7 separate regions of the Homo sapiens genome follow, and all the other regions are reported to be linked to region 6. The links are microRNA targets in miRTarBase. Many come from high-throughput screens and were not tested one by one. Region 6 holds a microRNA gene; each other region holds the end of a gene's coding sequence. Distances are from middle to middle.

Region 1 (4,606 bases), 200 Mb from region 6:
ACCTTCCAGGCTCAAGCAGTCCTCCCACCTCAGCCTCCTGAGTAGCTGGGACCACAGGCATGCGCCACTATGCCCAGCTAGTTTTTGTATTTATGGTAGAGACACGGTTTCGCCATGTTGCCCAGGCTGGTCTTGAACTCCTGAACTCAAGTGATTCACCTGCCTCGGCCTCCCAAAGTGCTGGGATTACATGCGTCAGCCACTGCACCCGGCCTCAGTCTTTTCTTCTATGCGGCACAACCCTGGCATGCATAGTGCGTACTTACACAGGTTTTGTTGCAGTAGGTTAACTTATGTCCCTTGAAATGTAATTGCCAACTACACTGACAGAGTCCTAACATAGTTTATGACGTGGCTTTGGAGTTCCCAACAACAGTGACACGTGGGAACCACTGTAACGACCTGTAACAAATGACTCCCATAGGTCACTTTGCAAGGTGGTGAGTATGAGGCATGGCAGGGGTCATAATCTCAGGAGACTTCAAGGGCCCCACCGCTTGCACATCTGTGAAGCAGGCTGGTCATGATGGGAGCTGAGCGCTGAGCATGTGCCCTGTGGAAGGACATTTTAGTTCAGATGCCAGCTGGCCCAAGCCCTTTTTGGAGCTAACCTTGTCCCCTTGGCCTCCAGTGTGTGAGCCCTCGTTAGCTGTTTATCCCAATCAAGCTGTGTCTGGCTGTGCACTATCCAGGCCTCCACATTCTGTGACAAACTAACAGGGCCGGCTCCTGTCACTCCTGTTCTCGCCAGCGGGTTTTACCCTGAAGGTGACTCAGGCCTTCTCTTTGCCCTAGATCGTGGGGATCATCACACGGCACAACCTCACCTATGAATTTCTGCAGGCCCGGCTGAGGCAGCACTACCAGACCATCTGACAGCCCAGCCCACCCTCTCCTGGTGCTGCCTGGGGAGGCAAATCATGCTCACTCCGGCGGGCACAGCTGGCTGGGGCTGTTCCGGGGCATGGAAGATTCCCAGTCACCCACTCACTCAGAAAGCCGGGAGTCATCGGACACCTTGCTGGTCAGAGGTCCTGGGGGTGGTTTTGAACCATCAGAGCTTGGACTTTTCTGACTTCCCCAGCAAGGATCTTCCCACTTCCTGCTCCCTGTGTTCCCACCCTCCAGTGTTGGCACAGGCCCACCCCTGGCTCCACCAGAGCCAGAAGCAGAGGTAGAATCAGGCGGGCCCCGGGCTGCACTCCGAGCAGTGTTCCTGGCCATCTTTGCTACTTTCCTAGAGAACCCGGCTGTTGCCTTAAATGTGTGAGAGGGACTTGGCCAAGGCAAAAGCTGGGGAGATGCCAGTGACAACATACAGTTCATGACTAGGTTTAGGAATTGGGCACTGAGAAAATTCTCAATATTTCAGAGAGTCCTTCCCTTATTTGGGACTCTTAACACGGTATCCTCGCTAGTTGGTTTTAAGGGAAACACTCTGCTCCTGGGTGTGAGCAGAGGCTCTGGTCTTGCCCTGTGGTTTGACTCTCCTTAGAACCACCGCCCACCAGAAACATAAAGGATTAAAATCACACTAATAACCCCTGGATGGTCAATCTGATAATAGGATCAGATTTACGTCTACCCTAATTCTTAACATTGCAGCTTTCTCTCCATCTGCAGATTATTCCCAGTCTCCCAGTAACACGTTTCTACCCAGATCCTTTTTCATTTCCTTAAGTTTTGATCTCCGTCTTCCTGATGAAGCAGGCAGAGCTCAGAGGATCTTGGCATCACCCACCAAAGTTAGCTGAAAGCAGGGCACTCCTGGATAAAGCAGCTTCACTCAACTCTGGGGAATGCTACCATTTTTTTTCCAAAGTAGAAAGGAAGCACTTCTGAGCCAGTGACCACTGAAAGGTATGTGCTATGATAAAGCAGATGGCCTATTTGAGGAAGAGGGTGTCTGCCCTTCACAAACACCTCTCTCTCCCCTGCACTAGCTGTCCCAAGCTTACATACAGAGGCCCTTCAGGAGGGCCTCCTGTGCCGCAGGGAGGGTGCGTGGGGAAGATGCTTCCTGCCAGCACGTGCCTGAAGGTTTCACATGAAGCATGGGAAGCGCACCCTGTCGTTCAGTGACGTCATTCTTCTCCAGGCTGGCCCGCCCCCTCTGACTAGGCACCCAAAGTGAGCATCTGGGCATTGGGCATTCATGCTTATCTTCCCCCACCTTCTACATGGTATTAGTCCCAGCAGGCATCCCTGGGGCAGACGTGCTTTGGCTCAAGATGGCCTTCATTTACGTTTAGTTTTTTTTAAAACCGTGGAGGTTGCCCACGGGCCTCGGCACCTGGCCCTGGCAGCACAGCTCTCAGGCCCAGCCCTGGGCGACCTCCTTGGCCAAGTCTGCCTTTCACCCTGGGGTGAGCATCAGTCCTGGCTCTGCTGGTCCAGATCTTGCGCTCAGCACACTCTAGGGAATAATTCCACTCCAGAGATGGGGCTGCTTCAAGGTCTTTTCTAGCTGATTGTGGCCCCTCCATTTTCCCCATTTTCTTATCTCCCTGACCAAAATTGCTTTGACTTCTAAATGTTTCTGCTTCCCAGAATGCACCTGACTTATGAAATGGGGATAATACTCCCAGGAAATAGCGCAGGACATCACAAGGACCAAAAAGGCAATTCTTATTTAAATGTTACTATTTGGCCAGCTGCTGCTGTGTTTTATGGCAGTGTTCAGAGCTTGATCACGTTATTTCTTCCTTTTATTAAGAAGGAAGCCAATTGTCCAAGTCAGGAGAATGGTGTGATCACCTGTCACAGACACTTTGTCCCCTCTCCCCGCCCCTTCCTGGAGCTGGCAGAGCTAACGCCCTGCAGGAGGACCCCGGCCTCTCGAGGGCTGGATCAGCAGCCGCCTGCCCTGAGGCTGCCCCGGTGAATGTTATTGGAATTCATCCCTCGTGCACATCCTGTTGTGTTTAAGTCACCAGATATTTTGTTCCCATCAGTTTAGCCCAGAGATAGACAGTAGAATGCAAATACCTCCCTCCCCTAAACTGACTGGACGGCTGCCAAGGAGGCCCCAAACCCAGGCCCCATGCAAAGGCACGTGGTTTCCTTTTCTCCTCTCTCTGCATCTGCGCTTTCCAGATAAGCCCAAAGACAGCAACTTCTCCACTCATGACAAATCAACTGTGACCCTCGCTCCTTCCATTTCTGTCCATTAGAAACCAGCCTTTTCAGCATCTCACCCATTAGCAGCCCCATCACCCAGTGATCAGTCGCCTCAGTAAAGCAGATCTGTGGATGGGGAGCCTACGGGTGGTAAGAAGTGGTGTTTTGTGTTTCATCTCCAGCTTGGTGTTCCATGGCCCCTAGGCGAGGTGATCAGGGAGTGGGGCCAATGGGCCCCCGGCCCTGGCTTTGGGACCTTGTGCTGAGGGATGATTTGCTCCTGACCTTGATTAACTTAACAGTTCCCAGCTGGAAGGGACACTTTCAGGACCCAGTCCACTGTATGGCATTTGTGATGCAGAATTATGCACTGACATGACCCTGGGTGACAGGAAAGCCTTTCGAGAGGCCCAAGGTGGCCTCGCCAGCCCTGCAGTATTGATGTGCAGTATTGCACCACAGCTCTGCGGACCTTGGCCATTGCCGCAGTCGCAGCTTCCTTTTTTCTGTTTGCACTGTTTGTTTGTATGATGTTAGCTAATTCCACTGTGTATATAAATTGTATTTTTTTTAATTTGTAAAATGCTATTTTTATTTGAACCTTTGGAACTTGGGAGTTCTCATTGTAACCCTAACATGTGAGAATAAAATGTCTTCTGTCTCCTCTGTCTCCTTTAGCCTTTTGTCTCCATGCTGCTTTCTTTCTTTCTTTCTTTTTTTGAGACAGAGTCTCGCTGTCACCCAGGCTGGAGTGCAGTGGTGCCATCTCAGCTCACTGCAAGCTCCGCCTCCCAGGTTCACGCCATTCTCCTGCCTCAGCCTCCCGAGTGGCTGGGACTACAGGCGCCCACCACCATGCCTGGCTAATTTTTTGTATTTTTGGTAGAGATGGGGTTTCACCATGTTAGCCAGGATGGTCTCAATCTCCTGACCTGGTGATCCTACCCGCCTCGGCCTCCCAAAGTGCTGGGATTACAGGCGTGAGCCACCACGCCCGGCCCTGCTGCTCTTTCTTTCAAGGGATACTTGCTTTTTATTTTACTCCCCCTCTTTCTGATGTGTGGAAATTACACTAGGACGTAGTTTTAGAGTCTCAGAGCTCTCCCTATGCAGCTGGGCAGTGGGGCTCTTCATTCTTGCGGGTCCACTTCTCTGTATTAGACAGTGACCTTAATAAGAACAGATTTCATCCTGTGGATCTTAGCAGAGGTCACCGTTGTCTGTTTCTCCCTTCAGATGAACACTCTTCCTGATCCTCTCCTCTAGAATTCATCTCCTCCTGCTAGCAGCCGCGTCCTGGAGGAGCAGCGGATGGGGAATCCATTCTGTTTCTTCCTGGTGTTTAGGAAGTTGCCCCACACACAGATTGCCCCGATGTCCAACCAGAAGAAGTGAAACTGCTGCTGGGTCTGGAGAGGTGAAGACCCGTGGCCAGCTTCTGTTGTTGCCATCGGCCATTGCTTTTTGTTCGCTTGCTTTTGGTTTT
Region 2 (4,000 bases), not on the chromosome of region 6:
GTGTTGTGTTCATACAGTTCCTGCTGGTTTATTAAGTTAAAGATACTAAATTTCACACAAAACATCTGTTCTATCTAGGTTATATTCACTCTACTTTTAATCTTTGGTAATCTCTTCCAACATGTTTCCTCTTTCCAAGTTTTAGTTGAAGTAAAAATAGCACGTTAGTTCTTTTTGTTTTTGTTTTTTGAGACAGGGTCTCACTCTGCTACCCAGGCTGGAGTGCAGTGGCGCAATCATGGCTCACTGCAGCTTCAACCTCCCTGGGCTCAGGTGATCTCACCTCAGCCTCTTGAGTAGCTGGGGCTACAAGTGTATACCACCACACCTGGCTAATTTTTGTGTATTTTTTGTAGAGGTGGGGTTTCACCATGTTGTCCTGGCTGGTCTCAATCTCCTAGGCTCAAGCAATCCTCCCGCCTCGGCCTCCCAAAGTGCTGGGATTATAGGCATGAGCCACTGCACCCAGCCCTATGTTAGTTTTTTAAATATCCATACACCTCTTTCTACAACTAACTTCTTCCAATCTCTAGGTGAGTCATTTCCATTTGCTTTTCCTATTTTCTTTTTTTGTTTGTTTTTGTTTCTTTTACCTTCTGCCATGATTCTTCATTCCCCAGCTCAGTTGCTTCTTTTCCTACAAAAGCTTCTCAAACAAAGGCCTCAAATTCCTATCTGTTGATACACATTATAAACTCCATTCGAACAAATTTATGGCAGTTTATAAAGAGATTGTGTTATTTTCTATGTCAGAAACAAAGCCTGTTACTATGAACAACGGAAAATGAAATAAGGGCAATAAAAATGAGGCAATTATCAATTGACTTTATTTCCTTTCATATGGTAACACCAGCAGTGTATGATATTTGTAAATAAAATACGTCATAAAAAAATTTAACCTTATTACCTATTATCAGTTAGGTTATACCATCCTGAATAAAAAATATTTGGGCCGGGCATGGTGGCTCACGCCTGTAATCCCAGCACTTTGGGAGACCGAGGGGGGCGATTCACGAGGTCAGGAGATTGAGACCTTCCTGGCTAACACGGTGAAACCCCGTCTCTACTAAAAATACAAAAACAAAATTAGCCAGGCGTGGTGGCAGGTACCTGTAGTCCCAGCTGCTTGGGAAGCTGAGGTGGGAGAATGGCGTGAACCCAGGAGGCGGAGCTTGCAGTGAGCTGAGATTGTGCCACTGCACTCCAGCCTGGGCAACAGAGCAAGACTCCGTCTCAAAAAAAAAAAAAATGGCGTCTGTAACAGTTTCCTGGTATTTTCAACCAGGTTCTAAGAACAAATTGATTTTTTGAAGTGGTGACATCTAGTCACATTAAAATAAAATCCAAATAAAGTAAGTTCAATACAGTTACCACATAATGAATGGTAGAGTTTAAAGAAAATTATTATTAGCATCAAATCAATTGTTATGAATAAATAGTAATTTGATATTACAAGTTCTTTAATGAATACCTTGGTAACTTGCTGACAACTTAAAAGATAATACCACTGATATTCAAATACAGTTTATAATCAAGTCCAGTGGCAGATACTGAACCGCCCACCTCCACCTCAATTTGTGAAAACCTGTCTTTTGTAGGGTTGGCTACCATGGGTAATTACGCAGCACTGAATAAAAAATAGAATATTTTTCTAATACTTCTACAAATATAATAAACACAGTAACAGTTTTTGCTGCAGCGATTTTCTTTACAAAGAATATTTGGGCCCAGTGCTACAGAAAAACATGAACTACATCTTATCGTCACAAAATAGCCATTATAAAATGAATTTTGCAGCCTCTGTTTTTTTGAACTTTGAAATAAAATGTTCAGACAAATATTCAACTTTTTAAAAACCTCCATTCATTGATAGCCTGAGAAATGTACAATGAACATGTTTAGGCAGACTGCTAGTATTTTGCTGTAATGACACAGTTAACAAAGAGAAAAGAAACAATACTGTAAAGGTTTCTGCTTTGCTTTTGGCTTCCTCAAAAACTATTTCTACAAATTTTGGGGAGAGGAGGTGATTCTGAATGTATTCAAGTTAGTGGTAGGCCAGGCAGAGTGGCTCACACCTGTAATTCCAGCACTTTGAAAGGCTGAGGTGGGAGGATCACTTGAGGACAGGAGTTTGAGACCAGGCTGGACAACATGGTGAGACCCTGTTTCTACAAAAAAACTTTTTGAAAAATCAGCCAGGTGTGAAGGGTGGGGTGGGGTGGGAGGCCACACACCTGTAATCCTAGCTATTAGGGAAGCTGAGGTGAGAGGATCACTGGAGCCTAGGAATTCAAGGCTGCAGTGAGCTATGATCACGCCACTGCACTCCAGCATGGGCAACAGAATGAGACTCTGTCACTAAAAAAAAACAATAATAATAAAAAAATAACAGGCTGGGCGTGGTGGCTCATGCCTATAATCCCAGTACTTTGGGAGGCTGAGGCGGGCAGATCACAAGGTCAGGAGTTCGAGTCCCAGCCTGGCCAATATGGTGAAACCCTGTCTCTACTAAAAATGCAAAAATTAGCCAGGCATGGTGGTGCATGCCTGGAGTCCCACCTACTTGGGGCTGAAGCAGAATGGCTTGACCCAGGAGGTGGAGGTTGCAGTGAGCCAAGATCATGCCATGGCACTCCAACCTGGGTGACAGAGCAAGACTCCATCTTAAAAAAAAGTATACTAATGTCCCTCAAGTTCTTCCATATGAGGTAAAGGGATCCAAGATTAAGGTTGAAATTCTTAAACTGTTCAACAATTTTGTGGTGTCATCAAAAAGGAATATTTCATATATATTAATTTAGCCTCAATGATCAACATTGTTAAAAGTCAGTATGGAGAAAGATCATTCTGACCTCTTCAGAAACCAGCTGGTATATGAACATTCTGATCACCAGATTGTTTTGAAAACGTGATCTTTTCACCATCGTCCTTAGGTCACAAAATAAAAGTTCTATTTTCTATGTACTGTATATATACATATATTTAGAAAAATATATAAAAATAAGACAATAAGAGGCAAGTGGAGGTGTGGCTGGCATTTAGTGGGCACACTGAATGCTTAAAGAAGTTCCACATATTGATTCTGAAATCATATAATGTCCTACTTAGGTGGCTACAGTGAACACTGATGTAACAAAATCATTCACATCCTGGTTACTGTTCCTCAAATCCTCCATACCGCGGATATGAATGGAAACACTCTGGTAAAATACTCATCTTAAATGCAACACTTTAAATATAATATATCACAGATTTTTACATTAAATAGAAGAAAAACAATTATACTCTCATTCACCAGTGTCTTATTTTTTGTGGCAACTTCAGAATCGGCACATTACTCCTGCTTTCTGTTTAAACTTCTCGACAGCAGAAGTTGGAACAACAAACAATAGACAATCCGCTGCCTGTTGTATATACTGTGAGTGTTTGGAAAAGCAAGTAGAAAAAAGACTAAGCACTCCTAATGTTCATCCAGGTGCTACGGTCAAACGTTTGAGTCTTCATCTGTAATGCTGGCACTGGGGGAACGGGCAGCAAAATCTTTAAACATGTCATCTTCTTTTAACATGTGCTGGAAAACAAGGAGACAGGGAGTCACACTGAGAGCCAAGAGCTCAGAGCTACACATTCTCCAAGAGACATGTGGTCCTTTGGGGTTGTTATAAAAGACATTTATAGAATAACATTTTCAATTCATTTCACAAACTCACCGTCAGATTGTTGATGCCTTCAGAGAATGCACCTATCTGTCTCACTGTCCCTTCTGAATCTTCCATCTGCAAATAACAAACCATAACATGACATAAGTGTTTTCACAATTTCAGGGAAAGTGCAGCAGGAGGAACAAAAGTCTAAGAAGAAATAATGCAAATAGCACTGAATGGGGTAAGAGCAACAGAACACTTCTGGTGATAATCTCCTTTCACCACTGCAACTGGAAGTGAAAAATTAGAAGAGACACTTTACTGACACAGCTAGTCTAATGCCTTTGCTAATA
Region 3 (4,606 bases), not on the chromosome of region 6:
AATAAGAAAGGAAAAATGGCTTATAGTCTTATAGAGTCAATCTAGGAGGTCTAATATTTAACTGAGATTTTCATTGAAGTGAGAATCCAGAAAACTCAGAGGAGAAATTATGAGTAAAACATACCAAGGAAATTCCTTTTAACAAATTGTTTTTGTGTAGAGATAGGTTCCCACTATGTTGCCCAGGGTGGTCTCAAACTCGGGGCCTCAAATAATCCTGCCTCAGCTTCCCAAAGTACTGGGATTGCAGGTGTGAGTCACCATGCCCAACCAAAATTTCTCAGAAATAAAATTGATAGTCTGAACATTAGCCAAGGGGTCTAGCACATGCCTGTAGTCCCAGCAACTTGGAAGGCTGAGGCAGAAGTAGCTCTCGAGTTAGAGCTTGCAGGGTGCTGTGATTGTGCCTGTGAATAGCCACTGCACTCCAGCCTGGGTAACACAGTGAGACATCATCTTAAAAAAAAAAGAAAAGTTAAACATGAACAGGGCATAGCGATATAACCAGATTAATCAATAAAGAGCCAGTACTAAGGTATTTTCAGAAGACCAGGGGAATTTTTTTCAATGCTCACAGAAAGAAAGAAAAAAAGGGGGGGAATCACATAAAAAGACATAGGAATCAGAATGGAATCAGTCTTCTGAACAGCAATTCTATATGCAGTCAATAAAAGGAGCAGTGCTTTTGAAATCTGAGGGAAAATTATTTTCAACCTAGAATGTTATGCCCAAACTATCAATCAAATAAAAAAAAAGAAAATAACAAAGCAAGCTCTCAAAAAGTTTTATTTCCTCTGTATCCATTTTTATGAAGGTACTGAGAGATGTGCATCAACAAAATAAGTGAGTAAACTAAGAAAGAAGAATGTACTGGATCTTATAAAAAAGGACCAACAAAGAAAAATATTTTTTAAAGTCCTAGGGTGACAGCCTATAGAGCAACCAGTATGAATGAAGTAGAGATCTGGGTGCAAGATCACCAAGAAATAAACATAATTGACAGGTATCTGATATATTTGAATATTTTGAGAAGAAAGAGATTCAAATTAGAGAATGTAAAGAAACTAATATTAGTAAATGGAAAATTATGTAAGTACAAAACAATTTTCAGTTCTAGGAAAAATGTTTCTCAAGAAAGGAAATTTAATCACACTACACTAATGTGTATTTTGAAGAAAGCTTAGCAATATGGACACTATTAGTTTAACTTAAAAAAAACTGTAGGCTGGGCACTGTGGCTCACGCCTGTAATCTCAACACTTTGGGAGGCTGAGGCAGGAGGATCAGCTGGGGTCAGGAGTTCAAGACAAGCCTGGCCAACATGGTGAAACCCCATCTCTACTAAAGCTACAAAACTAGCCAGGTGTGGTGGTGGGTGCCTGTAATCCCAGCTATTCAGGAGGCTGAGGCAGGAGAATCACTTGAACCTGGGAAGCAGAGGTTACAGTGAGCTGAGATCACACCACTGTACTCCAACCTGGGCGACAGAGTAAGACTCTGTCAAAAAGAAAAAAAAAACTGTAACAATTTTATTGGGAGAATAGGAGAAAGGGAATGTGCAGTGCTTATATTGGTTTACATTAGTTGAAAAGAAAGTTAAATCTTTTTTAAAAAATACATAGCAAGAAGTGATTAAAATGTAAAATGGAGTAGCAAGATTTAACAGCAAAAACATATCATTTAGAAGTATTGAGGTAATTCTAGAAGAAGCCACTCAATAGAAGGAGACTGGAAATTAAAGAAAATATTGTTCTGTTCTTTTCTTTTCTTTCTTTCTTTTTTTTTTTTTTTTTTTTTTTTTTGAGACGGAGTATCGCTCTGTCACCCAGGCTGGAGTGCAGTGGCAAGATCTTGGCTCACTGCAACCTCTGCCTCCTGGGTTCAAGTGATTCTCCTGTCTCAGCCTCCTGAGTAGCTGGGATTATAGGCACGCACCACCACACCCAGCTACTTCTTGTATTTTTTAGTGTAGATGGGGTTTCACTGTGTTGGCCAGGCTGGTCTTGAACTCCCAACCTCAGGTGACCCGCCCGCCTCAGCCTTCCAAAGTGCTGAGATTACAGGTGTGATCTAACCCACCCAGCCAAGCCACTGAGGCAGGCCTTGTTTTTCTTTCAACCTTTAGTTCATCTTGATTTTTACATTTGAAAATAATGAAATAAATTTACAAAATAAAAGGAAAAGTGAATATCTTTCCAACAGTCCACCAATATCCTCATCCCAAAATTATCAAAATGTTTTAATATTCCTATTTATTTTCATGCAGTTTATTACATTTTGTTTGGATTATAAGCCATGATCTCTCTCTCTCTCTATATATATATATACACACACAAAAGCATTAAAAATATTAGCCAAGTAAGTGTAGTATATTTAAGAAAATAATACAAGCACAAAGTTAGTATTGAAGTATAATATTGATCACAAAATAATATTTAATTTACCATGAGCACATTAATAATGAAATGTTTCTCTTTAAATGCTGTGATTTAGAACTAGATGATGTGGCTTTTTAAATGAATAAATAGAATGTTAGAATAAGGTTGGAAGGGCAGATATGACTTCTCCCATGAAGAAACTACAATACACAGGTGGTTAGGATCATAGGATGCAGACAGTGAAAAATACTAGGGGAGCCTGGGCACGGTGGCTCACGCCTGTAATCCCAGCTTTTTGGGAGGCTGAGGCGGGCGGATCACTGATATCAAGAGTTAGAGACCAGCCTGACCAACATGGTGAAACCCCGTCTCTACTAAAAATGCAAAATTAGCTGGGTGTGGTGGTGCACCTGTAATCCCAGCTACTCGGGAGGCTGAGGCAGGAGAACCCGGGAGGCAGAGACTGCAGTGAGCCGAGATCACGCCATTGCACACCAGCCTGGGCGACAAGAGTGAAACATCGTCTCAAAAAACAAAACAAAACAAAACAACCTAAGAGAAAAATCAAAGTCAGTTTTCTAGAATAAGAAATAATAATCAGTAAATTATTGTACACTTGGAAAGGATTAAAACCTTAAAATTATTCATTAGAAATGGATTAACTACCTGTTACTTAATATAAAAAGGATTTACAATGTTATTCACAATGATATGCAATACTTGAAAATTGAAAATAGGCCTGGCCGCCTGTAATCCCAGCACTTTGGGAGGCTGAGGGGAGTGCATCTCTTGAGCTCAGAAGTTAAAGGCCAGCCTAAGAAATATGGTGACGATCCGTCTCTACAAAAAATACAAGAAGTAGCCGGGCATGGTGGCGCACGCCTGTAGTCCCAGCTACTTGGAGGCGGAGGTGGGCTGGTCTCTTGAGCCCAGGAGGCAGAGGTTGCAGTGAGCTGAGATCCTGCCACTGACCTCTAGTCTGGGTGACTAAGACTCTGTATCAAAAAAAAGAAAAGAAAAGAAAAAAAAAAGGCCGGGCGCAGTGGCTCACACCGGTAATCACAGCACTTTGGGAGGCCGTGGCGGGTGGAACATGAGGTCAAGAGTTTAAAACCTGCCCGGCCAACGTGGTGAAACCCCGTCTCTACTAAAGATAAAAAAAAAAAAAATTTAGCCGAGCGTGGTGGTGGGCGCCTGTAATGCCAGCTACTCGGGAGGCTGATGCAGGAGAATTGCTTGAACCCGAGAGGCGGAGGGTGCAGTGAGCTGAGATCACACCATTGCACTCCAGCCAGGGCGACAGAATGAGACTCGGTCTCAAAAAAAAAAAAAAAATTGGGGGAGAAAAGAAAAAATTAAAAATACAATTAGTCGTATTGCATAATAACGTAACTAGTTTAAGACTAAATAATATTGATATGGTTACATAAAACTAAAAAAGTACATGCAAATGTAAATAGCATTCTTACTAAAAATTAAATCCAAAGCTATTTCGAAAGGTGGAGTTTTCTTCACTATTCTTCCCAAGACCTTTTGCCTGGATATTAGGGATAACCGGTTTTAGGAACTTGAATTCATTTGTCTCGGAACCTCCCGTCAGACACACCTCGTACTGGTAGCTCTGGGAAAGGGTCCCGGTGCCGCTCACGTCCACCAGATGCCCTGGAAAGGGGCCCTTAGGCACCGAGCAGCTTCCCACCGAGGCCGCCCTGCTCCTCCTGCACAGCCGCACCGCCACGAACAGGAGCACCGAGAAGAGGAAGAGCGAAGACACCGAGGCCAACGCCACCACCAAGTAGACGGTGAGCGAGTCGGCCTGGGCCTGGGCCGGTGCCGCCTCAGGGAGCGGCAGGTAGGGCTGGGAGAAGCCGTCCACCAGGAGCACTTGCAGCGTGGCGGTGGCCGAGCGCGGAGGCTCGCCATTGTCCTTGACCAGCACCACCAGCCTGTGCTTGGCCGCGTCGCGCTCGCTCAGCAGCCTGGCGGTGCGCACCTCGCCATTGTGCGCCCACACGCCGAATAGCCCGGGCTCCGTGGCCTTGAGCAGCTGGTACGACAGCCAGGCGTTCTGGCCCGAGTCGCCGTCCACCGCCACCACCTTGGTCACCAGGTAGCCCGGCTCGGCCGCCCGGGGCACCAGCTCGGTGCAGGGCGCGGAGCCGTTCTGCAGCGGGTACAGCACGAAGGGCGAGTTGTCGTTGGCGTCCAGCACCAGCACGCGCACCAGC
Region 4 (4,606 bases), not on the chromosome of region 6:
AAAAAGGATAATATGATACAGAATCACAGGATGGCTACTTGAGATTGTGGGCCTGGACATGAACACGGCCTCTTTGAGGAGGTGGTGATAAAGTGATACCTGATGGAAAGGAGCAAACCTGGAGAAGGAAGCTCAGAGACAGGAAGCGGGGGTGAAGGGAGGGACAGGAGGAAGAGAATTCTCCACTGAGGAGAGTAGGGCAAAAGCAAGCTCCAGGTGGATAAAATGAGATGCTGCATGTGGAGTCTAGCATAATGGTTGGTGGGTAGAGAGAGAGGAAAAGAGGGAAGTAGTTGAACAAAAATTAGAAGGGAAGGAAGGAGGGAAGGTGTGAATGAATGAGAATCTCAAATCCTGTAGGGCTGAGCTCTCTAGGGGACTTTACTCATCCTTTTAATCTTGCTTTGAACTGCATTTTCTCTTCTCAGTTGCAATTACTACTTTGCCCTGTTCTGCTTATAAGAGGAGCTACTATTAAGAGCCTAGTGAGTCAGATTCATTATAGGTTTTATATAAGTTCCCTTTAATCCTTACAACCTGAGGCAGGTTATTATCCTTATATGCTTGTTTATGGGTGAGAAAACTGAGGCTGAGAGTGTGTAACTTGGAGAAAGATGAAACATCTAGGTAATGGTAGAGCCAAAACTTAAATCCAGGCTGGTCTGATTTCAGATCCATGCTCTTGACTGCTACACTATAGTGCTCCTCAATTAGACTGCTCTTTAATAGTTTCTACATTTGTAACAGCTGTTCATTCCACTCAGTCCATCTTGTTCTTCATTATTTAGCTATCTCTGTGATACACCAGTTTCTTCTGCTAGCCAGATGTAGAAAAGATCACTTCTTCTTACAGAAACATTATCTCTTAGTTATAGAAGGCATCTTAATATAATAAATAAGGCAGAGGCTTTGAAGTTGACTGGGCCAGTATGGAATTCAGGTTCTGACACTTTTCTCTGTGACCCTGGGCAAATCATTTAGTCCAGGTCTCACCTTTCTTATCTGAAAAGTGGGAATATTATTTCTCTTAATAGCTGACTGAAAATTAAAAGACATAAAGTAAGGAAAGTCCCTAAAATAGCATCTAACAAATGGCAGGTGCAAAATAAATGGCTGCTTAAGAAACAAAAACAAAACCTTCCTCTCCTCTTACAGATAGGAAAACTGATTTGGAAATGTCTTGCTGAGAGAACAGATGCTCTATTTCTCTATCCAATTTCCATGATTCCAGCATCCCATGACACAAGTTCACTGGAACTACTAAAGGCATTCTGTTAATGTGATTTCTGCCTGAGTCAGCTCCGGCTGCAATAATAAAATATCATAAACTGGTGGGCTTATCAACAAAAGAAATCTGTTTCTCACAGTTCTGGAGGCTGGAAGTCTGAGATCACGGTTCCAGCACCACCAGGTTCTGGTGAGGACCCTCTTTTGGGTTGCAAATAGTTGACTTCTTATTTTGTCCTCACATGGTAGAAAGATAGCTAGAGAACTCTCTGGGATCCTCTTTTTAAGGGCACTAATCGCACTCGCAAGGGCTTCAGCCTTATGACCTAATTATTTCCTAAAGCTTCACTTCCCAATACTATCACATTAAAGACTAGGATGTCAACATACGAAGTTTGGGGTACACAAACATTCAGTCCATAGCATTGTCCTTAAAAATGTCCACTCAGGCTGAAAGATATTTCTCCACCTGAATTAAAGAAAAAGAGGTAATGTTTCACGATTCCAGATTTGTAAAACAGGGATAATAATGCCGGCATTTTAGGTTTGTGAAGATCAAATGTAAGGAATATGAAAGTATTTTAACATATATGAAGTGACTTATAAATTCTATTATTAAACATTCTATGAAATGCCATAAATAAAAGCTAGGTGACAAGGCGGCCAGATTACTTGAGGCCAGAAGTTCGAGACCAGCCTAGCCAACATGGCGAAACCCCATCTCTACTGCAGATACAAAAATTAGCCAGGCGTGGTGGCGTGTGCCTTTAGTCCCAGCTACTCAAGAAGCTGACGCAGGAGAATTGCTTGAACCCAGGAGGTAGAGGTTGCAGTGGGCCAAGATCGCACCACTGCACTCCAGCCTGGGCTACAGAGTAAGACTCTGTCTCAAAGAACAACAACAACAAAAAACCCCACAAAAAACTGTTTTGCTAAGTGAAAAGAAGAATAATTGGAATTTTATAACGTAATTGAAATTAAAGGGATTTTGAAAAATGGGAGAAATGATCAGAAACAAGAGAATGGAGTTCAAAACAAACACAGGACATTTAATAAAAAGCAGCAAATGACTTATAAATACTGTTTATTGTAAATGCAAATAAAATTGAGGACTGTGTTTACTACAATTTTAAGGAAAATTGAAAAAGATGTAGATGAGAAATTAAAAATAATGCTAAGGATTAAGTTTAGATTAGGTTAAATTTAGTGTAAGAGAGTGAAAGCTTCTATGCCAGGGTGCTGTTAAACAGAGCTGGGTAAACCGTTGCCTTCACATGGTGTGCTTTGTGACTCCCTGCTGACCAAAAGTATTTGGTCACCCTTTACCATCAAATGTTACAGTGTCTGAAATTATACCTGCAGACCAAGTCTTCTAGGCTAAGGTTAAATATCCCTAATAAGGGACCTATTTAAATTGAGGTTTCAGGACCTGATTATTTCTTAAGACCACAATGGCCTTGAAAGCAGGAAGAATGAGCTCAAGAAAGGAAAGGGAAACACACACTCTACCCTTTTCTAAAAAAGATTTTTCAATGAAAGTTACATTTTCTGTACTATACCACCACCCATTAACATTACAGAATGCAGGGGGAGCTTACCCTGATTTGCAAAACTTACCACATCTTTTGAGTTCCAAGAGGAATATAAATCATCTATTTATAAAACCTTTATTAAAATATATATTTAAAATATATATATTGTCTTTTTCATGAGTTATTTACAGGGAGATTTATTCCAATTTTTGAAACAACACAGAATACAACAAAAACAGGCTGGGTGCGGTGGCTCATGCCTGTAATCCCAGCACTTTGGGAGGCCGAGGCAGGTGGATCACAAGGTCAAGAGATCAAGCCCCTCCTGGCTAACACGGTGAAATCCCATCTCTACTAAAAATACAAAAAATTAGCCGGGTGTGATGGCACATGCCTTTAGTCCCAGCTACTCGGGAGGCTGAAGCAGGAGAATCGCGTAAACCCAGGAGGCGGAGGTTGCAGTGAGCCAAGATCGTGCCACTGCACTCCAGCCTGGGCGGCAGATCAAGGCTCTGTCTTTAAAAATAAATAAATAAATAAAAGAATATAACAAAAACACTTTAAAAGAGAACAATGCATTTTAAATATATTTCCTGAAATAATATTCCTTAGAAAAGATACAGGGTATTTAATTACCTAGATTTTAACAAAATATTCTTTATAGAAATAATTATAGTCTTTACCACAGAGTCACCAAATCTGTACCCAATCAAAACAGAGTCAAATAGACCAGCTCTCATTCAACTCCATTAGGAAACACCAATTTCACATAGTACTTCTCTTGATGTACAGCAGCAACCTCTGCTGGAGAAAAAAGGGTATACTTCTAATAACAAAGCACTGAGCTCAAACCTGTTTTGAACAGGAAGAACTGAAAGTTAGATTTCTTTCATTTCCTGTTAAACCAACACCTAAGTTAAAATTATTTTCAAGGTCTTAAAGACGCACGGGCCTTATCAAGTATATCCTTTCTGATTTTTGGATAAGTTGGATGTGCTTCAAGAACCTGCAAAACAAATAAAGAACCCATAAAAACTTGTAACTAATAATCAAAAACTACGGAGTTACAAAACTTATAAGAAATGAGCATTACAGTTAAGATTTCCTTGTACTAATACTACAACAGCTATAACACTTTTTAATGGTGGCATTTTAAATGTAACATGATGACTCCTTTATATTAATGGTAGTTAGATGAGAACAATAGAATGTAAATATCAAATGCAGAAAATATAACAAACAACTGCTTACCTAATAGATGAATTGTATAAAACAATTATGTATCAATGATTTAAAATATTTTTGTAATTTAGCTTTTCATTCATAATATCTGATAAACCCTTAGAGAGTGACTTTTATACAGCAGCACACATTAGCTTTACCTGAAATGATCTTGAGACATACGTATTTCTAGTTCTACTGAGTCTAAGAGTGGGGAGATGCTAGTTTTTTTTTTTAACTCCAAAAATGATCCTAATATATAGCCTTACATTAACACACAACCCTAACCTGACTGAAATACTGCTTTACAGAGACTCAGTAATCAACAGCAATTACTAAGGCCAAGTATTTACTGTAATGATGCTAACAGATTGCTGTGTGGGATAAGGGGCATTACAAAATTCTTTTCTAATGAACTTTTCTTGGAGGTCCTTACAATGTTTAATAGAATGTCTTATATGGAATATCAATGGGACAATGTATATATAAAGAGACTCTACAAATTCTAAAACTGTAATTTAAATATTTGTCATTTTAGTAGGTGATCATTTACTAGGGGATGAATTACAGAATGCAATTGAATGACTTCTAATAGAATTCCTTTTTATCTCTAATTGATCAGTCTG
Region 5 (4,606 bases), not on the chromosome of region 6:
AACTTATTTAAATCAAAACCATAGTTATTTAAAATCAAAATAAAGTCTGGATATAAATGGTAGTGTGGGGCACTCTCCTCCCACTTCCTGCAGACATATTAATATTCTTCCTCTTATAATTTTTTGTTTTGTATTTCTGTTAGAAAAATTTATTTTCCTACTTCTCACATCCCTGCTCAGTGTATTTTGTTCTTGTAAGAAGTCATGGGTAACTGAGAGTATCACATACTATCTGTGGCTTCACACGTGGAAGATGGGAGGCTCTGGAAGGAAGAGGGGATTGCTGACCCCTTGGCCTCTCCCCACTCCTTCTCTCTGTCTCTTCCCTCTCTCCAGGGGGTGACATCCGTTCACCACCTAGGAGGGGAGCTCCTTGGACCATACAGCAGACGTTGTCTGGGTGACAGATATGGAGATGTTCAGCAGAACAGCCGTGCCATGAGCATAGGACTGACATCTTCCCCCTGTGGTGTCTCCTTCTGCAGGTGCCTTATTAAGTGGCTGGAGGTTCGTAAAGTGTGTCCCCTGTGCAACATGCCAGTTCTACAGCTGGCCCAGTTGCACAGTAAGCAGGACCGTGGACCCCCTCAGGGGCCCCTTCCTGGGGCAGAGAACATTGTATAGCTTACCGCAAGGATCAGACTGTTGCTGGACACGACGTCTGTGTGGAGCCAGGAGGAACACATGTGGTGTCTGTATGGCTGCTCTCTACCTAGGACACCAGCTGCCACTTCTTTTGCCTCATGAAGAACTCTTGGGCCAGCCAAACTGGGAACCTAGGTGTCTGGGTCTTGTGACAACCAAAGCACTTTGACACTACCCCCTGCCGAGAGAAGAGGAGTGGATGAGCCTGCGGGTTTGCCTCAAGAAACTTCATGAGGGTCTCTTACTAACTCCATTACACTCTCTCTCCTGGAGCCTCATCTCCATGTCAAGCAGGAGGGTAAAGAAGGGAACTAAGAGCAGGTCTTTCAAGCCACACCCCCACCTGCGGATGGATGGGTTTCTCTGTAGGCCATGCAGGCCTTTGTCGCAGCAAACCTTCCCAGCAGCCCTTGAGCCAAGTAAAACCAGCACAACCAGCCACCAGTGGTTGGTGAGGCAGTGCCCACAAGGCTCATGTTGTATGCCTTTGATAAGGCCATCTTGGCTTTGAGTAGCAGTGTTCCTCGTCACCCATTTCCCCCTCAGGATTACAACACCTGCTATCAAATCATCTAAGCTGAAAACATGAGATGCGCTTGGAAAGGCCTAGTCAGAAGCCATTTCCTCTTATCATTTCCCTCTCCTATGCACCAGTAAGGCCCGTCCAGAGCCCCAGCAGGGAGTGGGCCCTGAGTCCACACTGTCCCTGAGTGATCCAGGAGGCTGCCCACATCCCCACATGTGCACTGTGGTTCCAGTGTAGCTGCTGTGAGCCCACTGCCACTGCCTCAGAAGGGAGCCACTGTGAACCTCTCGAGTGGCTCCAAAGAGCAGTGGCTTTTTGAGAATGGCCCATACTTCTGGCCCGGCTGGATGAAGGGAATGCCGACCCTTTGGCCTCTCCCCCTCCTTCCATCTCTTCTCTCTCTTGCCCTATCTCTCTTTCTACTTCAGAAAAAAAAAAAAAAAAAAAAAAAAGCCTGTCATTCACTTTTTAACACTTTATCCCAAATAAGATCCCTGTGTAATTCTGAAGCTGGTGATCCACTTGGAATTGTAGATAGTTTCAGGAAGCTCCTGCAGGGCTGTCCACCGTTGGTGTGTGCCTCAGTATTTGGACTTCCGAAACTGAAAGTGAAAGTGTCTTTATAGGAGAGAAACGCATGCTGCTCTTTGGCTCTTTCTGTCCAACTTTTCTAGAAATGACTCAAAGTCCATTAAGATTTGTGAATATTGTATAAATTAGCTATGGAAAGTAGCAGGTCAGATGGAAAATTCTTTTCCACAGCCCTGCTCTCCGCCTCCCTCCATCTTAGGAGCGCCTGCCTCAATTCCTCGTCAACTGCTTTGCTCCACTCCATCCCACAGGTGTGAGTGGGGGAAGTTTTTCATTAGGAATACAGTCTGCGTGACATGGAGAATGGATGGAGGGAGCTTTGCTACTCTGCTCTTGGCATGACTCCAGGATTTTTTTCTGGAATCCAACCTCTGTCCTCTTAGGAGAAGGAACCTGTCCTTGGTTCAGATGGCTGGGCATGAGGAGGAAAATTTCCATTAGTGTAGAACAGTGCTGGACAGAATCCGGTTTGGAAAATTACAAATCCAGTTGGTCAAAATAGGCCATTTCCTATGTGTGACCTATTCGTGGTATGCCAACTGGACTGCTTCCTAAACAGGACGAGGAAAGTGAGGAATATTTTTATATGAAAGCCTTAGCCTGTCTGGCACCCATGAAAAAAACTATTTATGCACTCCTACTTTCACCGTCTTTTTGCATTCTCTATTTGTAGCACAACAGAGTTGAATGCCACAAAACACCCCGTTTATAGTGAGCTGTTTTCAGTGACCAATATCAGAAGGAGGCTTGCTTCTGGACTAGCCTCACTAATTGCCAGCAGCCACCATTTTCCATGGAATGGCCTTGGGACAGATGTCACCTCTGTTATGGGGCTCTAATAGGAAAGAGAATGTTTTTTCCCTTCCTATGATCAATACTGCAAATTATTGCTGCTCACAGCTTTTATAGGATTCTCCCAACTGAAAGTTGCAGGCTTTTTCTGTCCCTGTGCATCAGTACTAACAAAAGACAGCCTCACCAAGTCTGTATATTTGAACAGAGGCAAGTTAATTCATCCCCCCGTGTCAGAGCCACAGGCATGTTGAGGGGGTTGATACGTAGCACTGGACCAGGGCGCAAAGCCCAGATAGTTCCAGCCATGAGAGGAGAGCACAAGAATGCTCTGCACTCTGCACTCAGCACCACCTTGGGTCTGCTTTGCCCAGATGAGGGACCACTAACAACCTTCTCAGCACATGTGAATGTGGACTGGTTTTAAAATGCATTCATTCTGCTAGGATTGGGCTGGAAGCTGGAACAGTGAGAGTACTTTTTCTGCTCCTAGTCATCTCCCTTTCTCAGCGTGACATCCTCCTGCAGCAAGCCTAGTATCACTAGCAGTAGTTCCTGCGACTCTTAGCAACACAACCCGAATATTTGCTCCCTGCATCTGGGTCCTCCACCAGGATGGGCCTGCGCATCTGCATTGCTGTACAGACAAACAGGCCTTTTAATTTACATCCTCCTTTAATTCTCATTAAAATCGCAGGGTTTTTGTTTGAAAGACAGTCCTTTTTTTATTTATTTTGAAAAAGGAATGAGTTAGGGACCCCTTTATAACTCTCTTGGCTCAGACTCGAACCCCATGGTAAAGTCACCCTTTCCGCATCTATCTTCAGGAGTTGCTGGGACTTGTTACTGTGTAGCTGCGTGGGGATTCTGGTCTGCTCTTGGACCACTGGCTGGTATCCTTTGTGTGTTTCTTAAGCAGCTCAAAGATAGAATGTTGCTGGTCTGCTATGGGTTAGTGGAGCATAACTCAGCCCCAACTGGACTCCACGGGTGGCTGAACCATTAGTAGTTGCTAGGGGTACAACTGAATTCAACTGCCTTCAGAAACAGGGAACAAAACCAGCCTGACTTGATTCCTGGTTGGGTCAGTATCAGACACTAGGAAGTTGACATCTGCTGCTTTTCTTTGCCACGTGTGATTTGGTTAGGCCTGTCCCTGGCAGATAAGGTCCTTGAAGCCTATGCTTGCCTAGCCAGGGAAGGCAGGACAGAAATGGCCAAATAGGGGCAGGTGGCCCCTGGGAAGGTCTGAGCTGAGGGATACAGGGGACCTCCCACCATTGCCGGATACCCTGTTCTTGACAAGAAGATCCTTTTCCCCAGTGCCAAGCCCCTTGGATCCATCAGAGAAATAGCCTCGGGCCTTGTCCTTTTTCACAACCCCACTTCAAAATCATGTCATCTCCCTGGCCTGATCCCGCTCTAAGCTACTTTGAACAACTAGGAATTATTTTTCTCAGAGGCTTTTTGGGCATTATGAAATACATCCTGATACATCCAGGGCAGTATACCCAGAGCTCCAGGCAGAGAGTGATGGAATCACCTCTTGTCACTCACTAGCCTTAGGCCCTTCTGCAGGTTAGCCTCTCAGTCTCTTCCTTAGCTTCCTTAGCTACCACCCAGGGATTGTAGTAACGTCCCTGGCACCTCTTGTGGGGGTTAGCTGGTGCCCAGAGCCTGGTAGGCAGCAGGCCTGGTGTCATGGGGGCTGCTGATACCACATAACATCATCTGGGTTACATGGGCTCCTCTGCCATCATGATTGATAGGAACAGAACCTCAGCCAAAAAGCTTCCTGAGCTGTAGGGGCTTTCCCTGAGGCCCAGGTTCACCTGGCCCCTTTCTTCCTTGGTCATCTCTGCCTTTGCCCACAGTGAACTCTGACTTGGTTGTTCAGTGCTGAATATTTCTTTCTTAATGTTTTGAATAGGTAATCCATTCATGTGGTTCACAAATCATAAAGTAGTTAAAAGCCTTTCTTGAGTTCCTGATGCCTAGCAAGCTCCGCTCCTCACTCCATGAATACCTACTATTGGTTTGTTCCTTGGGTAT
Region 6 (4,606 bases):
TAGTGTATTGTCATCAGAACAGGTAGCAATCTAAGAGGGAGTACCAAGAAGGGAATTAAGAAATTTCAATCAAGATTCAAAATACATTAAAAAACAGGTGTGTCTTAAGGCCTTGTGACTGGATAATTATTTTGTCTAATAAACAGGATATAGAAAATAATATCTTAAAGATCATGTACATCCATTTCTTGCTTTCAGGAATCATTCCAGATTTCCAACAAAGCTGACTCTTTAGTTTATTCTTCATATACATTCTACTAGTATGTCTTTTGTTACTGGTCATTTCTTATCTAATCTAAAGTTCTGGCTCTTTATCATCTTCTGTATAAATACAAAATATGTAGTTAAGACACTCTTTTTACTCTTCTGTTAAATGATCAATCAGTATATGTTACCAACATTCAATTTCTACAACTTTCTTCTGAATTCTGCATGTTGTGCCACATTGCTAAAGTAATGGCACCATTTGCAAGATCAGACTTGGCCCATGACTCTAGTAGGCTGTGACAAGTAGAAGGAAACCATTCCTTTTGAGATTCTTTTTCAGATAGGTAGAGGAGCAATCTGGGAAAACAACAAGTTCCCTAGGCTGAAAGAAGTTAAAAAATAACCTTTGTCCCTTTAAAAATATCTGACTATTCTAGATCTTGGTCCCAAGCCTTTTATGGCAGAGAAAGTCCAGCTTGAAGAGCTTGTGGCAAATGGCCACTGGTACCAGAGCTGTTCCCCAGCATTTGTTTATATAATTTCTCTATTTCAGTCACTAAAGAGAAAGAAAAAAAGAATACATGTTCTCTTAAGTCTTGGCCCCCAAGAGACTGGCAGCTTTTTCCTTTCCTTACTGGGAGGCCAAAAGAAGATACACATATTTAACTGTTCAATATGAAATGTTTGGAATCTCACAGTTCTTCTATAGTTTATTAACAATAGTTATTTGCAGAGCACCTACTATGTGTCTGGTAGTTTACATTCTTTATCTTATTTAATTCTCACACTCTAAAAGCTTTGTACTCAAATAATCTCATATGCAAAATGGGAATAAAGTTATTTGCCCAAAGTAACCACAATCAAATGGAAGAGCTAGAATTTAAACCCAGCTTTCTCCTATTCCAAATGCCAGACATTAAAAACACAAAAACAACACAAACCATATTTTACTTTCCTAATTCTAGGCTTGGGATGAAATTATTTTTAAGACTTAAAAAAGTAGCCAATAAATTAGTATAGGTAAACAGCCCTGCTATTTCCTTTGAGCACAGGAAATAAGGATAATTAATATATGATGTTTGAGATGCATAGGGGTAAGGATAATATATGACAATTGAAAAAAAGATAACATAATTAACTGAATAATTCAAAAATCATTCAACTTAGTAAGTCCCATGAAGATGCAACCCTCCATGTTAAAAGAAATTACATGGAATCTCAGAGGAAAAAATATCATTAATATGTAATTTTGGGTGATTAAAGTAATGACTTAAAAAAAAAGAAAAGGTCTGCCATGAAGTTGAGCACAGAAATGGTAACAATAAGGAGAAATCCACAGCAATACTGGAAGCTAGCAGGGATGCCACAAATAGACCAGACCATGAGAAGTTTCTGGAAGATAAAAAACAGATGGGAACAATAGGCAACAAAACCTCAAAACGTCATACGTGAAAGGGGAGACCTCCACAGAAATAAGATTTCCTGTAGAACCCAGAATAACTCAAAGACCAGAGGCAATGGGGTTTGGGAGAATGACTGGAACTTGAGCTACTATTATATGCAATTCCAATAGATACATAGTTTTTAATGTTTCTGGCCTTTCTACATTTTAGGGTTTTTTTGTTTCTTAAAGTGTCACTATAAAAAAATTAAAAGGTGGGCATATTGTCTTCTTTCTGGAGTATCTAAAACATTTCAGACCTACTTACATAGTTTAAGCAATAGATAACCTAACATGTTAAGACTTCACAGTTACCATTTTGTTAGCCATATGTGAAAACCCAAATTGGGCTGTCAAGATGTTACCTTTAATATACTACATTGATAATATCTAAAAAGTAAAAAAGACTAGTTCTCACCTTAGATTGTATTTTTATCTTAGATTTTAATAGAAAATTTTAATTAAGTTAACAACTTAATCCTACATTTAGGAAAGAAATAACTGTAGGGAACCAGAAATCTATCCTTATTTCACAGGGCATAATACCATTATGGTATGGGTAGAGAAAAGCAGAATATGCCTGAGTAATGTGAATATAGATCCTGGATGGCCTTTAGGTCTTTAAAATCTCAACTTAAACATAAAAATTTATATCATTCTCAAAACAAACCTTAGAAAAACCTACAAACCTGTGATCTACATTTTAAACCAACTATAGAGATTCATTTACAAACCTTTGTGAAGTCAGATGGACACCAGCACACAGACGTGACCTCTTGAGAATGACCCAGGAGCACAGTAGGAGGTTGCCAGGGTGTGGAGACCTAGTCCAATCAAAAACAAACAAGTCAGCAAAGCAATATTAGATTTCCCAGATAGAGGCCTTTGAATTCAGAAGTGTGTCTTAGAGAGCTTTAGGATTGTTACCAAAGGCCACTAGACCTGCCTAGCTATAGTTAGGAAAAAAAAAACAACAGATTTCCAATGGGCAATGAAATATTTCTGTTACTAATCTGAGAAAACACAATGAAAACAGTCAAAATAAGTAAATAACATGAGCTTACACACAAGGATAGTCCTTATTTCATATCAGGACAACCTAGCCATATATATTTTGACTAAAATTCAAGACTGGCATTGTCCCTTATTCCTTAGGTGGTAAACTTTCTGGAAGGATGTTATCCATCCTTAAGTAGTCAACTCGACAACTCAGTCCTGTTTTTACACAGCATATATATCTTCAGATCCCTAGTCAGCTACTTCTAGGAACACTAAATTAACTGTGAAACCTGAAGATTTCTGAAACATGCTACCAGCTCTCTTCGGACAAGATGATGGTCTTCCTTCCAAAAGAAGACCGTCCTCTTGTCCCAACAGAGCTGGTCACTAACTTTTACAAAACCCAAAGTTATACTCCTTCATTTTGAGTTGGATAACCTTCATTCTGAAGGGGTATAAACTATATTTTACATGGCACTTTGGTATCCTTTCTGAAAAACATTTTTTTCCTCTAAAACTATATTTCAGTTAATTTTCTGAGAGAAGTTTTGAATTTTCAAGTAAGTGTCACTCGCATTTTAATATATTTTAATGCAGAAAGAAGGGTCACATTGTACTGTCCTGTACATGTGACTAAGAATCATATTTTTCCATCATCAGATGCCACCAGTTATGTACATTTGACAGCATCATACAGCTGACTCATTCAAGAGATGTCAATCTCTTTCATAGGCCATGGGAATTAATCAGCACAATAACGAGTACAAACACACATAACTATTATTAGCATGTGTGTTTCAAAAGAGCAAGGAGGTTGGGGCTGAGAGAAGTTATTCTCTTTTCATTTTCCTGAGGCTCTGAATCATGGCTCATTTGTATGAAGAAAGTGGAGGTGACTCTGGAATGATTATTTGTGAGAATGACTAAGTAAACTTAATAGATTCCCCCAGATTATGGTTAAGAGATCTGACACACTGACTGATAAGGTTATTCAACTCAATCATTAATACTCCTCTCTTGGCTTAAATGGTACATATGCAATAATTAAAAAAGCAAAAGAAGACAAAGAGCAGAGTCTAACTTGTCTTGCAGAGTTAATTAAAATTTATCAGAAAGGAAGCTTTTTCCACATCTACAGGAATCTCACTTACTGCCTACTCCTACAATGGCACAGAGATAATTCATTCTTTCACAATGTAACATATTTTAGAAAAGACTTTGAAGATCGTCTCTAACTATCCCAGTAGTCACAGAAATTTTCCTTTCCTCCTCTGTTTGGGATGGCCCCAGTCGATTAAGTTTCTCTTCACCCAAGGTCCAAACAGGTCTGGTAGCAGCAAATTAGAAGGGAGAGGAAATCCTCAAGTCCTACTGAGCATCCCTGGTAGAAATACATTATTGTCTTCCATTGATTCACCCTGCTTATTGCCTATAGCTTTTTAATTTCATGATATTGGTCCTTTCTCAGTTTCTGTATTATAATACCTAGGAGAACCTAAATGTGTACACCAAGGGTTAAAATAAGTTTCAAAAAACCCCCTAAATACCCACCAATAGAATATATGCACATTTTTGCATTTATCTATAGGGTTTCAGAGAAAAAAGAAAGAGACCCATTAGAAAAACATTTTGGAATACGTTAACAAGGTATCAATGACGACAGTAAAAGTCTAAGCCAGGCACTTTACATAGCATTAAAAGTGGGGGGAAGTTTCCTCAGAAAGTTAAACAATTATATGACCCAGCAATTCTATTCTTAGGAATCGAATTCTGTTCCTACACTCCCAGGAGAATTAAAAACCTATGTTAAACAAGAACTTATACACAAATGTTCACAGCAGCTTTATTCATGTCAAAAAATGGAAACAGCTCAAATGTCCATCAACTGATGAATGAATAAACAAAATGTGGTCTATCCACACAATGGCATATTATTCAGTCATAAAAAGGAGTAAGTAC
Region 7 (4,606 bases), not on the chromosome of region 6:
ATGAGCATCATCAGTATGTTCCCAAATATATGGAGAGCATGCCCGAGAGGGGGTGTGGAGACATGGCCATCCCCCGCCCTCACCACATGTGTGGGACTACCTGCTCACTAGTGAAGAGAAGCACAGAAAACCAGGGTCAGGGCTGAAACAAGGCAAACACCAGAGCTTTGCTTTTCTCCCCTCCAGGTTTTGTATCTTTTAAAGGAAATGTGCTGTTTTGCTTCTCCTAAACATGCTTGATGTTTAATCAGTTCTTGCTATCAGGACTTGATATCCGTTCTGTCGAGTGCTGATGCTTGACACTCAATTTTGAGCTTTGCCTCTCACAAAAGCTCTTGCATAGGTTTCTCTGTCCTCCACACTTTCCCTTACTTTCAGTTACAGGCAGTGAGAGGTTCCAATTAGATCCTAATAGTCCTAGGGAGGCCAGATTGTGAGCTGCTGGCAGGGAGGTACTTTCTGCCTCCTTTGACTGAAACAGGATTCAATCTGTAGTTTTAAAAGAAACGTAAAAAGCATTCCTTCCCTTTTAGATTGGTCTATTCCTCAGGAAGTCACATCTCCCATTATTTTTGTTTTGCCCCAATTTTTTTTTTATTTTTAGAGACAGGGTCTCACTATGTCACCCAGGCTGGTGGGCAGTGGCACGATCATAGCTCACTGCAGCCTCAAACTCCTGGGCTCAAGCAATCCTCCCACCTCAGCCTCCCAAATAGTCGGGACTACAGGTGTGCACCAATGCACCCAGTTCAATTTCTTAATATTTGTTTTCTATCAGCTTGTAATCTCTTCTTTGTGGTCTGTGTTATCAGTGATCAGTGAAGGTGTCGAAGCTCCTTTAACTGGTGGCAGTCAGTTACCTTTGCTTGCCCTACTGGCAGTTTAGAAGACACATCCAATAACTTCTTCACAACTCCAAATCTTGGGTATCAGGTAATGTTTCCCAAAAGCATAAGGTCCAGAAATGATAACAATTTTTTTCTCTAAAAATAGAAAACATTACATGGACACATTGCATGATGGCAAAAGAAAACAGGCCAGGTGTAGTGGCTTATACCTGTAACTGCAACACTTTGGGAGGCTGAGGCTGGAGGATCTCTTGAGCCCAGGAGTTCAAGACCAGCCTGGGCAACATAGTGAGACCGTTTCTACAAAAAACTAAACAATTAGCTGAGCATGGTGGTGTGCGCCTGTGGTCCCAGCTACTGGGGGCTGTAGTGAAGAGCGGGTGGCAGGTGGGAGGATGACTTGAGCCCGGGTGGCTGAGGCTGCAGTGAGCTATGATCATGCCACTGCATTCCAGCCTGGGTGATAATAGCAAGACCCTGTCTCAAATACATAATAAATGAAAAGAAAACAATGCTTGAGCTTACAGATACTTCAGTGATCCTTGTTTTAGTTCTACTTATGCCATCAAAATGGTGGCATATTCAACCTAAGTAATTGACTTTTGGGTTTAGGAACAAGATATTCCAACATCTGCAAAGAAGAAAAGGATCACAAACAGCAGAGAGCACAAACTGCAGTAGTGGGGACTACCAAGGAGCTGGTCTCGAAAGCAACCCACATGAAGCCACCGCGGACCCCGCCAGGGGAAGCTGAACACAGAAAGCGGAGTCAGAGCCTTGCAATATGTCAGTGGAACAAGAATTCCCGTTAGACTAAGAGCCCTGAGGATCTAGGTAAAGCAGAATGGCTGGAAAGGGGCTTCCTAAGGACTCCTCACATGGGTCTTAGACCTTTTGGGTCACATCCCCTTTGAGAACAGTAAAACCTATGACCCCTTGTCCTAGAAAAATGCACATACCCTCAATTTTGCATGTAATTTCAGAAGGCTTATGGAACCCATGAATTTAATCACAGGCTTCTTGGGGGTGCAAGGATCCCCGTTTAAATGACCCTCTGTTCTATGGTATTGGGTAGGGGTCTGCTTTATTAGGCCCTCTGAATATGGAGTCTATTCCTCACTAAGAATGATAATATAGCCCTACTTAAACTTTATTTCCATTATATAAAATACTGGCACCTTTCCCAAGGAAAGGTTTGTGTTCAAAATGAGAGAATCACCAGGCAACGAAACTGGGAGATGTCACAGTTCTGCTGTGGCAGCTTCAAGACATTTGGGACACAGCAATGACTTTTTTTTCTGAGACAGGATCTCACTCTGTCACTCAGGCTGGAATGCAGTGGCATAATCATGGCTCACTACAGCCTTGAACTCCTGGGCTCAAGTGAGCCGCCCACCTGAGCCTCCTGAGTAGCTAGGACCTGAGTAGCTAGGCACATGCCACCACACCTGACTAAATTTTTTACTTTTTGTAGAGATAGGGTCTCACTGTGTTGACCAGGCTGGTCTTGATTACTAGGCTCAAGTGATCTTCCTGCCTTGGTTTCCCAAAATGTTGGGATTACAGGTATGAGCCACCGCACTCGGCCACAATCAATGACTTTTTAAAATCAGTGACTTTTGATTCTTAAAATTGCAGTCAGCATAACAATGTATGGAATTTTTCCCCCTTTTATAGGTAAAGAATAAACATGGTAAATATTCGAGGAGAGTTATACAGAGTGGCTGACAAGGCCTTCTTCAACGGAAGGAGGCAGAGGACAGGCCACAGGTAACAGTCAAATAACCACCAGTATCTCCACCCCACGAAGACCTCCCTGCAGATAAGCAGCAGGAAGGCACCTGTTGTGAGGGCTATAGGAATGTGGGATCCTGCCCTGGGGCTCCCTGCCAGGGCCCTGGTGAAACTGCTTTAAGATGCCTCTTCCGTGGAAGAGGGGGTCAGCCTGCTTTGGGCAAATGTGTCCACAGCCACTCTGCCACCTTCCCATAAAGCCTAGTTGTACATGAGTGACATTTTGTTTCACCTCTTAATAAAAATGAATTCTCTTCATTTCCAAATCTCTTTATTATCATAATTAACCTTTACTTGGAAAGCAAGCAGTAAAACCTGTTCAGACAGCATCATTATATTACTTTCAGGCAAACAAGCGTGGAGGACCTCTACACCCTCAAGTTAAAAAAGGCACTGAGGCCGGGCGCGGTGGCTCACGCCTGTAATCCCAACACTTTGGGAGGCCAAGGTGGGTGGATCACGAGGTCAAGAGATCGAGACCATCCTGGCCAACATGGTGAAACCCCGTCTCTACTAAAAATACAAAAAAAATAGCCGGGCATGGTGGCGGGTGCCTGTAGTGCCAGCTACTCGGGAGGCTGAGGCAGGAGAATGGTGTGAACCCGGGAGGCGGAACTTGCAGTGAGCCGAGATCACGCCACTGCACTCCAGCCTGGGCAACAGAGTGAGACTGTCTCAAAAAAAAACCAACCAAACAAACAAAAAAGCACTGAAAGAGACAGACTCCAGTTCCCGGAAGGCTGACCCAGTCAGCACTAAAAACAGGATTAATGTATAGCTATTAAGAGAATCATACAGTGGCTTTATTCTTACTACTTAAAAAAAGGTGATGTGATGGCAGTGATGGTCAACATCACACAGGGAAGACCAGGTCCACGCTTTGTCCAGAATCAACTGCTACCACATGAGTCTTCTTGGTTAAGTCATTTGAGCCCACAGTGACAGAATAGGTCCCTGGATATACTTCTATGTAGAGGTCCTTAGAGATGTTCTCAGCCTAGAAGGAAAAGAGGATATTAGCAGTTTAGAGATTTTATACCCCAGTGCCACCATGGCCCCCCAGCAGGCTACCTGTCCTTGCAGAGGTGTGATGGAATGAAGCGCTAATGTGGGAGACAGAGGTCCTGCTTTCAAGGCTCAGCCTGCTCACGTACAACACTGTCATTTTGGTAGGTCTCAGCCTTTCCTTATTTCTAGCACTGTGATAATACCTCACAAATAAGCATGTGAAAACACTCTGTAAATGCTAAAGTGTTATATGAACATGAAGGATTATAAAAAGAACACTCTACTTGGAGTTAGGCAGAAGGAAAGGCTAGAGGCCACTGTTTTGGGGATCAGAAGTAGACAGTGGCACTTAGCACAGATGAGCAGTAATGACAAGGTACTCGGGAGTGATGAGAGCCATTCTTTTAAACGGTGCTTTGCTAAGTTCACTATCAGGAAGATGACAGGCATTTCTTTTGTCCTAAAGCTCAGAACAATTTGAGTGAATTCCATTTTGTCACTGAAGCAGCAATTCAGCTGGCTGACAAAACTCTCCCTTGGAGGACTGGTTCTCCCAGAGTACAAAACACTGGAAGCCAGAGTTAATGGAAAGATTTTATTTAGAGCCGAACTGAGCACAATCAGTCTTCCAAGGGTAGACTTCACTCATGGCTGGTAGATTACATCAGGTGTGCAGGCAGAGGATGGGTCTCAGTTCAAATGGTAAAAGGACAAAGTCACAAACCAGAAGAGAGCCTGTAATTAAGGGCCAGAGTGACACCTGGGATGCCATTACAAGCTTGCTTAATGCTGAGAAGGGGCCATAGGCAGAAGTTGTCGATTCCACTACCACACACAGGAAAAGCCAAACTACTGGCCAGCAAATTGCACTCAGAGGAATAAATGATCATGTTTACATTTTTATGAAATTTCCCCTCTTCCTCCTACCTTGCAGATGGATTTGAAGCCAATTTTTT

What was found. Region 6 holds the annotated microRNA hsa-miR-3122 (GUUGGGACAAGAGGACGGUCUU, at 3,002-3,023, opposite strand). A microRNA usually pairs through its seed, bases 2 to 8, with sites in the 3' UTR of a target mRNA and lowers its output. Matches are read on the target gene's strand: a 7mer-m8 pairs with bases 2 to 8, a 7mer-A1 pairs with bases 2 to 7 and ends in A, and an 8mer does both.
Region 1: the mRNA of CLCN6 is a reported target of hsa-miR-3122. Seed matches in the 3' UTR shown: 7mer-m8 at 1,946-1,952.
Region 2: miRTarBase lists PPFIBP1 as a target of hsa-miR-3122. Seed matches in the 3' UTR shown: 7mer-A1 at 2,432-2,438 and 7mer-A1 at 988-994.
Region 3: miRTarBase lists PCDHB11 as a target of hsa-miR-3122. Seed matches in the 3' UTR shown: 7mer-A1 at 3,447-3,453, 7mer-A1 at 3,141-3,147 and 7mer-A1 at 2,673-2,679.
Region 4: the mRNA of TTC21B is a reported target of hsa-miR-3122. Seed matches in the 3' UTR shown: 7mer-A1 at 3,035-3,041.
Region 5: the mRNA of RNF24 is a reported target of hsa-miR-3122. Seed matches in the 3' UTR shown: 7mer-A1 at 1,651-1,657.
Region 7: the mRNA of AKIP1 is a reported target of hsa-miR-3122. Seed matches in the 3' UTR shown: 7mer-A1 at 3,077-3,083.

What each region holds. Positions count from the first base shown.
Region 1 is chr1:11,839,348-11,843,953 of GRCh38, forward strand. CLCN6 (chloride voltage-gated channel 6) reads left to right here. Exons shown (of 23, transcript NM_001286.5): 23 at 796-3,783. The coding sequence ends at 876. It also overlaps NPPA-AS1. Among named protein-coding and RNA genes, the nearest start is that of NPPA, 6.1 kb to the right of the region's middle.
Region 2 is chr12:27,692,370-27,696,369 of GRCh38, reverse strand. It overlaps PPFIBP1 (PPFIB scaffold protein 1), which reads right to left. Exons shown (of 30, transcript NM_003622.4): 29 at 3,714-3,779; 30 at 806-3,574. The coding sequence ends at 3,488. It overlaps MRPS35-DT (MRPS35 divergent transcript), which reads left to right. Exons shown (of 5, transcript XR_001749448.2): 4 at 3,828-3,888. Among named protein-coding and RNA genes, the nearest start is that of REP15, 2.1 kb to the left of the region's middle.
Region 3 is chr5:141,201,409-141,206,014 of GRCh38, reverse strand. It overlaps PCDHB11 (protocadherin beta 11), which reads right to left. Exons shown (of 1, transcript NM_018931.3): 1 at 2,236-4,606. The coding sequence ends at 3,847. It also overlaps PCDHB@. Among named protein-coding and RNA genes, the nearest start is that of PCDHB11, 4.1 kb to the right of the region's middle.
Region 4 is chr2:165,871,068-165,875,673 of GRCh38, forward strand. It overlaps TTC21B (tetratricopeptide repeat domain 21B), which reads right to left. Exons shown (of 29, transcript NM_024753.5): 29 at 2,295-3,765. The coding sequence ends at 3,688. It overlaps LOC100506124 (a long non-coding RNA gene), which reads right to left and starts at 874. Exons shown (of 4, transcript NR_045375.2): 1 at 1-874. RefSeq lists an enhancer at 3,487-3,686.
Region 5 is chr20:3,930,081-3,934,686 of GRCh38, reverse strand. It overlaps RNF24 (ring finger protein 24), which reads left to right. Exons shown (of 6, transcript NM_001134337.3): 6 at 486-4,606. The coding sequence ends at 624. Among named protein-coding and RNA genes, the nearest start is that of MIR103B2, 15 kb to the right of the region's middle.
Region 6 is chr1:212,076,039-212,080,644 of GRCh38, reverse strand. It overlaps MIR3122 (microRNA 3122), which reads right to left and starts at 3,032; the gene lies at 2,960-3,032. DTL (denticleless E3 ubiquitin protein ligase adapter) reads right to left here. Exons shown (of 15, transcript NM_016448.4): 12 at 2,383-2,472; 13 at 1-30.
Region 7 is chr11:8,918,370-8,922,975 of GRCh38, reverse strand. It overlaps AKIP1 (A-kinase interacting protein 1), which reads right to left. Exons shown (of 6, transcript NM_020642.4): 6 at 2,897-3,639. The coding sequence ends at 3,496. C11orf16 (chromosome 11 open reading frame 16) reads left to right here. Exons shown (of 7, transcript NM_020643.3): 6 at 1,461-1,682; 7 at 2,526-2,900. The coding sequence ends at 1,660. Among named protein-coding and RNA genes, the nearest start is that of AKIP1, 9.5 kb to the right of the region's middle.